Homo sapiens: one gene and its partners. The protein of the gene in region 3 purifies or fractionates together with the protein of the main gene of each other region. This does not show direct contact. Each region holds a gene or a part of one and is shown on either strand. Other genes may lie near its edges. The genes, in order: ISOC1, SULT1C3 and PPP1R2.

What was found.
Region 1: the proteins of PPP1R2 (region 3) and ISOC1 fractionate together in Homo sapiens (co-fractionation; one large-scale study listed by BioGRID). This does not show direct contact.
Region 2: the proteins of PPP1R2 (region 3) and SULT1C3 fractionate together in Homo sapiens (co-fractionation; one large-scale study listed by BioGRID). This does not show direct contact.

What each region holds. Positions count from the first base shown.
Region 1 is NC_000005.10:129,111,673-129,114,610, reverse strand, and holds the end of ISOC1 (isochorismatase domain-containing protein 1), read right to left. Parts: intron 1,757-2,938; coding exon 1,610-1,756; 3' UTR 583-1,609; downstream 1-582.
Region 2 is NC_000002.12:108,242,958-108,246,615, reverse strand, and holds part of SULT1C3 (sulfotransferase 1C3), read right to left. Parts: intron 1-3,658.
Region 3 is NC_000003.12:195,522,683-195,526,340, forward strand, and holds part of PPP1R2 (protein phosphatase inhibitor 2), read right to left. Parts: intron 2,215-3,658; coding exon 2,137-2,214; intron 1,105-2,136; coding exon 1,010-1,104; coding exon of another isoform or gene 1,007-1,009; intron 1-1,006. UniProt on the Homo sapiens protein: Inhibitor of protein-phosphatase 1.

The DNA of each region.
Region 1 (2,938 bases), on a different chromosome or scaffold from region 3:
CCTGAAAGGTTTGGGTGCAGTGGAGGAAAACAGTTGTCTGGAGTTAAATTCTCGCTATTTCAAATATGGTCCTTTCTGAACAGCACTGGTGGAAAATGCCCAATTTTTGGAAATGCGAAATGTCACCTTGGAAATGCAAAATGTCACCTCAGGCTGCACAACAGACCTACTGAGTCAGCATCAGCATTTTAACAAGATCCTCAAATAATTTGCATTCATATTAAAGTTTGAGAAGCACTAGGTTAAATTTAATAAAAACTTTTTAAAGGTGCAGAAATCTTTGATTCTTCTTTTTTGACACACAAATGGTTGGAAAAAAGTATTTAAACACACCAGGTTGCTATTTGTTACCACTGCCAATAGGAAAAATAAAAAAAATCTGCTCTTAATGAAGAAGGCCTTTCACCCTTTAGTAAAATCCATCTGCCCCTACGTACAAAGGATTTTCCTTCTTTGAAAACTCCCATGAGTTGAAAGATTATAAATGTCAAGATTTTATTACCTTAAATAAATATTAGAATCCCTGGAAGAATACTCATAGAGCCATCTTGTGGAGGACAAAATAATTTCAATCACAATACATTTTCTTTAATTACTTTAATATAAAAGACAGCAGTTTCACATTTCACATATTTGAAAAACATTTCAAAACCCTCTAACAAGTATTTAATGAAAATAAATTTATCGAAGAGAAACAATGACCACAAAATTAATACTACCAAATCATTACTGAGACTTTTTGCATTACAATATTTGGAGAGTAGGTGAAGAAAATATAGAACAGAACATGAACATTTTAAAATGATATTCCACCCAAGCTTTATCTTTTTGCTAAATCTTGTGGACACTAGAATATATATTCAAGATGTTGGTAAAGATATTCAGCAAGCCATACTTCAAAGATGTTAAAACAGCCCTCCACCAATAATATGGCATTGCAAACCCTTCTATCCCATCCCTTTTCAGTTAAAAGAGAGAATATTAACAGAGATTTAGTAATAGTGACCAAAATAAGAAATCAGTATAGTCAAGAAAGATATGTAATTATTCAACATCATTTGGTACGGATAGATCAATGCAACTCACTAAGTGGACAACATTGTGAGGGGAGTGGGTAACATGATTCAGAGTCCTGTGGGTAAATTCATATGCAATAATCTTATTCCAATCAATCTGTAAAGTAAAAGCACTACATCCACATTAACATTATAACATCTTACAGTAATATAAAAGCCAAATCATTGTTGGTACGTCATTTTCTTTAAAGTGAACAATTTAAGAAAACTTCACAAGAGTCTGCACTTTGGAAAGATACGATCAGAGTACACAGTAGAGACAAAACAGGCATCTTCATTGTAATTTTTTTTAATAAATAAAAGCACATTAACAAAAAAGGAAGGTAAGCAGCACCGGAAGCCTTTGACGTTTGTAACTAAATGCTGGTACTCAAATGGTCTAGCTGGTTAAGTTTCACTAGGAGGCGCAAAAAAGGAGCCGTTTTTGACTTAACATTTTAATTCTAGTAGAGATAAGAAGAGCTTGTGTGGGCTTACAGTCCTTCACCTGACTGTCCTTCACCAGTGAGTAGCATACCAGTTCTTCAAATGTCCTATACTTTGGAAAGCAGACCCGACTCTGGAGCACTCGCCTTAATTAGATTCTGAATTTCCTTGAATTTTGGATGGTCCTTATCAGCTACCAGCTGAAGCAGAACAGCCTCACTCGTGGTCACTATGATCCCGGTTCGAGCGAGACGCTTGAACAAAAAGATAAAGGCAAATCAAGAAATAAGCATGAGAATGAACACTATTTCAGAAGAGTAACACTATGCTGGGATGCAATAATTAGTGTCCTCTACTGAAACCGTGGTTCCCAGCCATACCATCAAGTTCAGTGATGGGGATGGATTTCAAGACCAGGCATACCACAAAGTCAATATGATTATTCTTAATATTAGTAAAATGGAGTAGAACGAGTAAAAGGGAACAGGTAGCCAAAGTTATGACATATATGTGCCCAGAACAGGAAAGTCATCAAGGCAAATGACTGTAAAACATGAGATGAGAGAGAGAAAAGGAATGGTTGTTACTACGTGCCCATCACTGAACATCTGGACATTTAGTTGCTGCTATTTCCTGAACACTCCTGGCAGGTTTGTGCTTCATGTCTTACTCATTCATTGACTCAAATGAGGGCTGCTTGTGACTTCTAAATTTATTAAACTTTTATTTCTATTTCTACTACTGAGATTTTTTAAAAGGTGCCTCTGTCCACTTTTCCCCCTCTGTAGTTTAACTGATAATACATGAGATCGTGATGCATATTAATACTTATGCCTGGCACCCCTGGCATTTTGTAGCTCTTCATGTTTTAAAAATCGAGGGGAGCGTAATATTTTAAAGCTCCATTAGCTGTACTACAGATATAATTGTAGCTGCTAGAACATTACATTAGTAATTTACTATCAAATTTCATATAAATTGTTTAATTGGATTAAAACTACTATAAGAATTAAAATGATGGTTCTTAATTTCTTTTTACTGCACCCAAACATCTGACCTATAGCATATGAGTCCTTCCTATAATTAACAGTTCCCTTGTCTAGAAATGACTGGTGCTAAAAGAGCTCTCTCTGTGTCAGGAGACTCCCTGGATGATAAGAGAACCACCACTACTGCTGCCATCATGAACATTTTAATACCACTAAACAAGAGTGTAAAATTCAAGGTTGTGTAAAGTTTCACTGACAGGTCAAAGAATATCCTTGCCAAACTGCCCCAGTGGAATCATAATACTAAGGACAGAAAGCTCAAGGAGGAAAAGAGAGACAGAAAGGAGAAGGCAAAGGGGAAAGAAGGGAAGGAAGAGAGCAAAGAACAGAAAGTCGGGGGTAAAGGGTAGAGAGAGGAAAGGAGGAAAATAGAAGAATTCTATAGCA
Region 2 (3,658 bases), on a different chromosome or scaffold from region 3:
TGGGTTACAGCAGAAAAAACTCTCTTGTACCCATGTACCTGAAAACTCTCATGTCTACTAACTCTGGAAACTTGGAATTTAGTTGGGGTCTGATATGGTTCGCCTGTGTCCCCACCCATTATAAGGGGGAGTTCCCCTGCACAAGCTCTCTTTTCCTTTGCCTGCTGCCATTCATTGCCTTCCACCATGACTGTGAGGCTTCCCCAGATACGTGGAACTTTAAGTCTGTTAAACCTCGTTATTTTTTAAATTGCCCAGTCTCAGGTATGTCTTTATTAACAGCATGAAAAGGGACTAATACAATAAATTTGTACTAGCAGAGTGGGGTGCTACTGCAGATACCTGAAAATGTAAAATTGACTTTGGAACTGGGTAACAGGCAGAGATTGGAACAGAAGAAGACAGGAAAATGTGGGAAAGTTTGGAACTTTCTAGAGACTTGTTGAATGGCCTTGACAAAAATGCCAATAATGATATGGACAATGAAATCCAGGCTACTGTGGTCTCAGATGGAGATGAGAATCTTGTTGGGAACTGAAGTAAAGGTCACTCTTGCTATGTTTTAGCAAAGAGAATGGTGACATTTTTGCCCCTGCCCTAAAAATCTATGGAACTTTGAACTTGAGAGAGATGATTTATTGTATCTGGTGGAATAAATTTCTGAGCATCAAATAATTCCAGAGGTGACTTGGGTGCTGTTAAAGGCATTCAGTTTTATAAGAGAAGCAGAGCATAAAAGTTTGGAAAATTTGCAGCCTGACAATGCAATAGAAAAGAAAATCTCATTTTTGGGGAAGAAATTCAAGCCAGCTGCAGAAATTTGCATAAGTAATGAGGAGCTGATTGTTAATCTCCAAGACAATGAGAAAAATGTCTCCAGGGCTTGTCAGGAGTCTTCATGGCAGCCTCTCCTATCACAGGCCCGGAAGCCTGGGAGGAAAAAATGGTTTTGTGGACTAGGCCCAGGGTCCCCGCGTTGTGTGCAGCCTAGGGTCTTGTTACCCTGCTTCCTAGCTACTACAACCGTGTTACCCTGCTTCCTAGCTACTCCTTGATTGTCCCATTGGCCAGAAAATGGCCATTCAATTCCCGTGTTCCTTTAAGGCACCTATTCTGTCTCCTATTCAGACAGTGCTTAATTAGTAAAGGGATTCTAAGTCTGGAAGTTAACCAGAACCCTTTTTCTATGGGTAAATGCTTTAGCATAGGCCATCATAGCAGGATATAGAGTTCAATCTAGCATGCTCCCTCCCTTAAAGGGGCCTTGCCCAATTATGTGATTTTTCTTGAAATTCATTTTTTTTTTGGAAGGCACGCAGGCCACACAAGTCTAGGAGGTCAAAGGGAAATAAAAGGCAGAAGACTAAGACTGCCTGTGGACAGTATGACTAAGGCCCAAAAGTTTAGTTCCTCTGGGGCCATGACTTATAGGGTCATGTCTGCAGTCATGGGTGGCACATTTAAATGGGTGCCAGGATTCAGGAGCCAAAGACAGAAAATAGTTGAGGAATGCCCTCTACTGTTTTCTTCTCCATCCTTGATCACAATACCGAAAGGAAGGAGACTAAAAGGACACTTTTATTCTCACTTCTGTTTTTAGATGGGTAACAGATCATCTTCAACATGCACTCCCCTGGAGTGTATTTTGAAGCACTGGGACTCCTTCATCCTTGAAACTTTGAAGAAAAAGTGGCTTATTTTCTTTTGCACAAGAGTGTGGCCTTTGTACTAGACCTTTGCAAGTGTTGCAAAATCAACCCAGCTCTTTTAGCAATCATATCAGGCAGGCCCAAAGAGAATAATTCCCCAAAATTAGAAAAGCAAGGTCCTGGGAAACCACCTGAGGATTCCCTTATTTGGGGGTGCCTTCAAGTTCCCTTCTCATTGCAGGACTTTAGACAAGTAAAGGCAGACTTAGGCTGATTTTCTGACCACCCTGATAGCTATATAGAAGCTTTCCAAAATTTAACTCAGTTATTTGCCCTCTCATGGAGGAAAGTTATGCTGCTCCTAAGCCAAACCCTAACTGTAGCTAAAATAGGCAGCTCTGCAAGCAGATGAGAATTTTGGAAATAAGTAATATGTCTCCTATAGTGTGCCAAAATGGAAAAGAAAAAAATAGGGAAGGCAAAAATATAGGCAAAACACCATTCCCAATAGGAAGAGAGGCGATACCTCATAACAACTGTAATTGGAACTCCTTTCTGTAGTATTTTTTCTTCTTTTATGGTTTATAATGGTTCTATCTCTTTTATAATGTCCCCTTAACCTGGGAAAAGTTAATTTTCCAAACTTAAAAATGCTTGGCTTAGAGTTGAGCTAGGGGGAAGGGAACCCAGAAGTGTGATATGCTGGCAAAAGGGTAAAAATTTCTTACCAGTTGGGCTTTTGGCTTCTCTCTCCCTGTGTGAGCCAGTAAAGGGGATAATAAGGATCATTGTTTATATTCTCTGTGAATTTATAATTAATGAAAAAGGATTTTTGTTGATCTTAAGCTGTAGACAATTTGGTGTGCTTTGCATGTCTTTCTGTATGGTTCTGTCAAAGAAAAGATACCTTAGGTTAGGATGCAGGCCCAGGACCCCACAAGTCTGCGGTTCAAGCCAGCCCAACATAATAGTAACAAACTTGGCCACAGGCCTCCATCTTGTTTCATGTCTGGATACATGACCTGTAACTACATGGCAATAATATACTTTACTCTCAGCCTTTTTACAATGGTGGCTGTCTTCTTGTGCTAAGTCAGTTCCTGAGTAAGGGCCAAAAAATCATATAAGCCAGTTTGTCAATCGGGTGGTGCTAGCTGATTCATCAAGGGTAGAGTTTACAAAATATCTTAAGCACTGATCTTGAAAGCAGTTTAGGGAGGGTCAAAATCTCATAGTCTCTTGCTGCATGACTCCTAAGGGATGGTTTCAAGACTTCTGGCTAGTTTTTTGGTCTTGTTCCCAGGCAAGAGGGAAGTATATCTTTTTTTTTTTTTTTGAGATAGAGTCTTGCTCTGTCACCCAGCCTGGAGTGCAGTGGCTCAATCTCAGCTCACTGCAAGCTCCACCTCCCAGGTTCACGCTGTTCTCCTGCCTCAGCCTCCCAAGTAGCTGGGACTACAGGCACCCACCACCACTCCCGGCTAATTTTTTGTATTTTTAGTAGAGACAGGGTTTCACCGTGTTAGCCAGGGTGGTCTCGATCTCCTGACCTCGTGATCCACCTGCCTCGGCCTCCTAAAGTGCTGGGATTACAGGTGTGAGCCACCGCGCCCGGCCCTGGAAACATATCTTAAGAAGGAGCTGTTACCATCTTTGTTTTAAAGTATAAACTGTAAACCAGGTTCCTCCCAAAGTTGGTGAAGCCTGTCCCCAGGGATGGGCAAGGACAGCTCGGGCGCTGGAAACAAAATGGAGCTGTTTGGGTCAGATGTCTTTCACTGTCTCAGTTACAATTTTGCAATGATAGTTTCAAAAGCTGCTTACCCTCCTTTGAAAATGCCTTGCACACTCACGGTTAAATCATAACCTAATTAAGGCTCATTGGTTTCACCTGTAAGGTTACTTTTTGTAAAATTGAAAAGTCAAAAATCTTAACTGCTTGGCATGGCTAAAGTCGAGTAAAAAGGGATTTAAAAGGATTTTCTTAAAGAGTGCTCAGCTTAATTAAA
Region 3 (3,658 bases):
AATTTCTCTCGTACAAATATTAGGCTCAGCCCATCATAGCTCTGTTGAACAGGCTATATTCTGAAGATGATAGGAAAGACTAGTAAATGATATCTTAGCAGCTACACGACAAAGATCCTTCGTTCTAAAGTTTCTCAGCTTCTTCACGGTACAGGAGGTAGTCCCTACGCCACAACACTTCAAGTAGGTTTCTACCATATTTTCCTTCTTCCTCTTTTTTGTGAGTATGTGCTTTTCTTATATCTTTCCCCTCTACCCACAAGCTTGGATTTTCCTTTAAAAATAGTTGCAAATAAACTATACACAATTTTTTAACTCCTGAGAAGATTATATATTCACATGAATCAAAAAGTATAAAATGCAACAAGATAAGACATACTCCTTTTCTCCCAGCCTCCACGGGTAACCACTTTTACTTGTGGAAACAGAAAGCACGAGCAGGCAGCAATGCCTTAAATGTGTATGTGCTGAATGGCCTACGAGACCCTCTTCCATCCCTGTGAAGGGGAGGGCTGTCTCCATCTCCCTTCCTGTGACACTACTGCTCCTTTTGATTGATGGGACCTAATAAAGACCTTCACTCTGCATCTGATCATCTTGGTTCATTTGTTAAGTTGCATCACTGTCCAACAACACAAAAAGCATAAGCAACTGGGAAATTAGCTCTTTCAGCTACCCACTTTAAGACCGTCCAAACGCTCAATGACTTGAAATGCATTAATTTAAAAAGTATTTACTGAGTATCTACTCTGCACTAAAAAGTACAAAGAAAATAATACTTATAATTACTTTAAAGATGGTAATACTTCCCCATATTCTTGAAATCAGGGGTAAAAAACTATTACACAACAAAACACACAAGTAGTATCTGAATTATAAAGATGTTGCTTTCATTCTCCTCCCCTGTGTGTCCCCAAAATGAAAACCATTTGCTCATCTTCCAAATAATGGATTTATCTTAGCAAAAATTACTAGCACCATGATGAAAGCAGTAAAGGAAATAAACTACCTCGTTCTTCAGGTGAGAGGTCACTATCCTCCTCTCCACTGCTTTCTTGTTCCTGAATCCGATACTTTGGCTCCAAGCCTTCAGCTGCAGCTAATCTATGCAACAATCATGTACAAAGAAATTAACAGTGATGTTTTGATATTATTTAAGCGCCTTATTCAACTGTTGATTCTTACAAAAACATCTGAAGATCATTAATGTGCTAGCTATAACCTGATGAGGAAAATAAAAGGCAAGAGAGCAGAAACGTGCCGGGCATGGTGGTACACGCCTGTGGTCCTAGCTATTTGGAAGGCCGAGGTGGGAGCACTAGTTAAACCCAGGAGTTTGAGGTTGCAATGAGCTTTGATTGCGCCTCTGCACTCCAGCCTGAGTGATAGAACAAGGCCCTGTCTCAAAAAAAAAAAAAGAATAAAAAGAGTAGAAATGGGCATAGACAAGAACAGTGGAATGGGTGCTAGAAATCAGTAAGTAGCAAAGGAAGAGTGCTTTTATGAATTAACTTATTTTTGCCTTTCTCACTGCTACCTTTAAAAACAGGAAGCAGGGGCCAGGCGCGGTGGTTCACCCCTGTAATCCCAGAACTTTAGGAGGCTGAAACCAGCGGATCTCTTGAGGTCAAGAGTTCGAGACCAGCCTGGCCAATATGGCAAAACACTGTCTCTACTAAAAATACAAAAATTAGCCAGGCTTGGTGGCATGGGCCTGTAATCCCAGCTACTACTGGGGAGGCTGAGGCACGAGAATTGCTTGAACTTGGGAGGTGGAGGTTGCAGTGAGTTGAGATCACACCACTGCACTCCACCCTGAATGACAGAGCGAGACTCTGTCTCAGAAAACAAATAAAACCCCCCACAGGGAAGTGACACATTTCAGTATCCCAAGTGCAGGTACGCTGGTCTTCCTGCCACCTACATACCTTGATTTTAATCAAGAGACAAGACTATAAAAGTTGGTGACTCAGAAGGTGAAAAAAGGGGGAAAAAAGGAAAAAAAAGTCGGCATAAAACATGTTGATCAACAGCCTTTTCTTCCCGCTCATACAGGGACAGCCACGCAGGCTGCTTTCAACTCTGCACGATTATAAACAGCCTAAGTGAAAATGTGCTCCGGTCATTAGTACTTACTTCCTGGCTAAGATGTCTGGCGCCATGGCTTCAGTGGCCTCGGTGTCACTACAGGCATCTTCATCATCCCCCATCATACTAGTATGACAAGCACATTGTAATTAATACCTGAAACATACATTTTCAGCCACAAAAACAAGGGAGAAAAACAATTCCATCAACCTACTTAACATATCAATATATTTATAGCTCTGTTGATATCTTTGAGGTTTAACTTTATATAGTTCCTATTCAATACAAATACTTAAAAGTACAGCACCCAATCAAGAAAAGACTCCAAATGATTAAAAAAAACACATAAATACAGTCTGCCTGCCATATCCACAGGATCCACATCCATGAATTCAACCGTGGATTGAAAATAGCCAGAGAAAAGTAAAATTTCCTCTGTACTAAACATGTAGACTTTTTTCTTATCATTATTCCCTAAATGATACAGTGTGTAACAACTATTTGCACAGTATTTACATTTTATTAGGTAATATAACTAACACAGAGATGATTTAACACATACAGGAGGATGTGCATAATTATATACATCTACAATGCCATTTTATATCAGAGACTTGAGTGTCTGAGGATTTCGGTATCTGAGGGAGGTCCTGAAACCTCCATGGATAATGAGGAATAACTGTACTGAAAACGTAAATGATCTGGAAAAAAAAATACTACAAAGTTCCAATTATTCCATCCAGTGGGAAGGAACAAGTAATGCAAAGTAAATCACTGTCTGGTTTTAGAACATGTATTTCTACATCAATCTTAAGATAGAGACAAAAGATCTACGCAGACACAAGACTGAGTAAAGTAACAAAATTCGATCCCAAAGATCTAATTTCGGAAGTTTACAAGTGATTTAGCTTTCTCACTCTACCCTCTAATGAAAAATTTGCTCCCCACTTCAATGCAAAAATGGGCAACCTTAATTCTTAAGCCACTGCAAAGTATATAAAGCAGAACTCAGCTATTTATAAAATACTGCCAGTTTATACATTTCCTGGTTAATTAAGGTGACAAGTAAGTCTATAGTTTAGATGACGTTCTTTTTTCTAAGGGAAGTTGAAATTGATCTATGTTATTGAGTTTAATCAAGCAAAGTAAGGTAAAATAAACATTTTGTTAATTTATAGAATCGTTCTATAGAAAATTCTAGTTGTAAAATTTACTGAATTATGTTTATATATGTACATGTATACAGAAGCAATAACTTCTTGTATACTAACTGTGAGATTCTTAGATAATAAGACATGATGTTTCTATAAAAAGCATCTTCACTTAAATAAAATTTTTTTTTTTTTTGAGACAGGGTCTCATTCTGTCACCCAGGAGTACAGTGGCACCATCACGGCTCACTACAGCCTCAATTTCCCGGGCTCAAGTGATACTCCCACCTAAGCCTCTTGTGTAGCTGGGACTACAGGCATGTGCTACCATTCCTGGCTTAATTCTTTTTATTTTTTGTAGAGACGGGGTCTCTCTATGTTGCCCAGGCTCATCTCCAATTCCTGAGCTCAAGCAATCC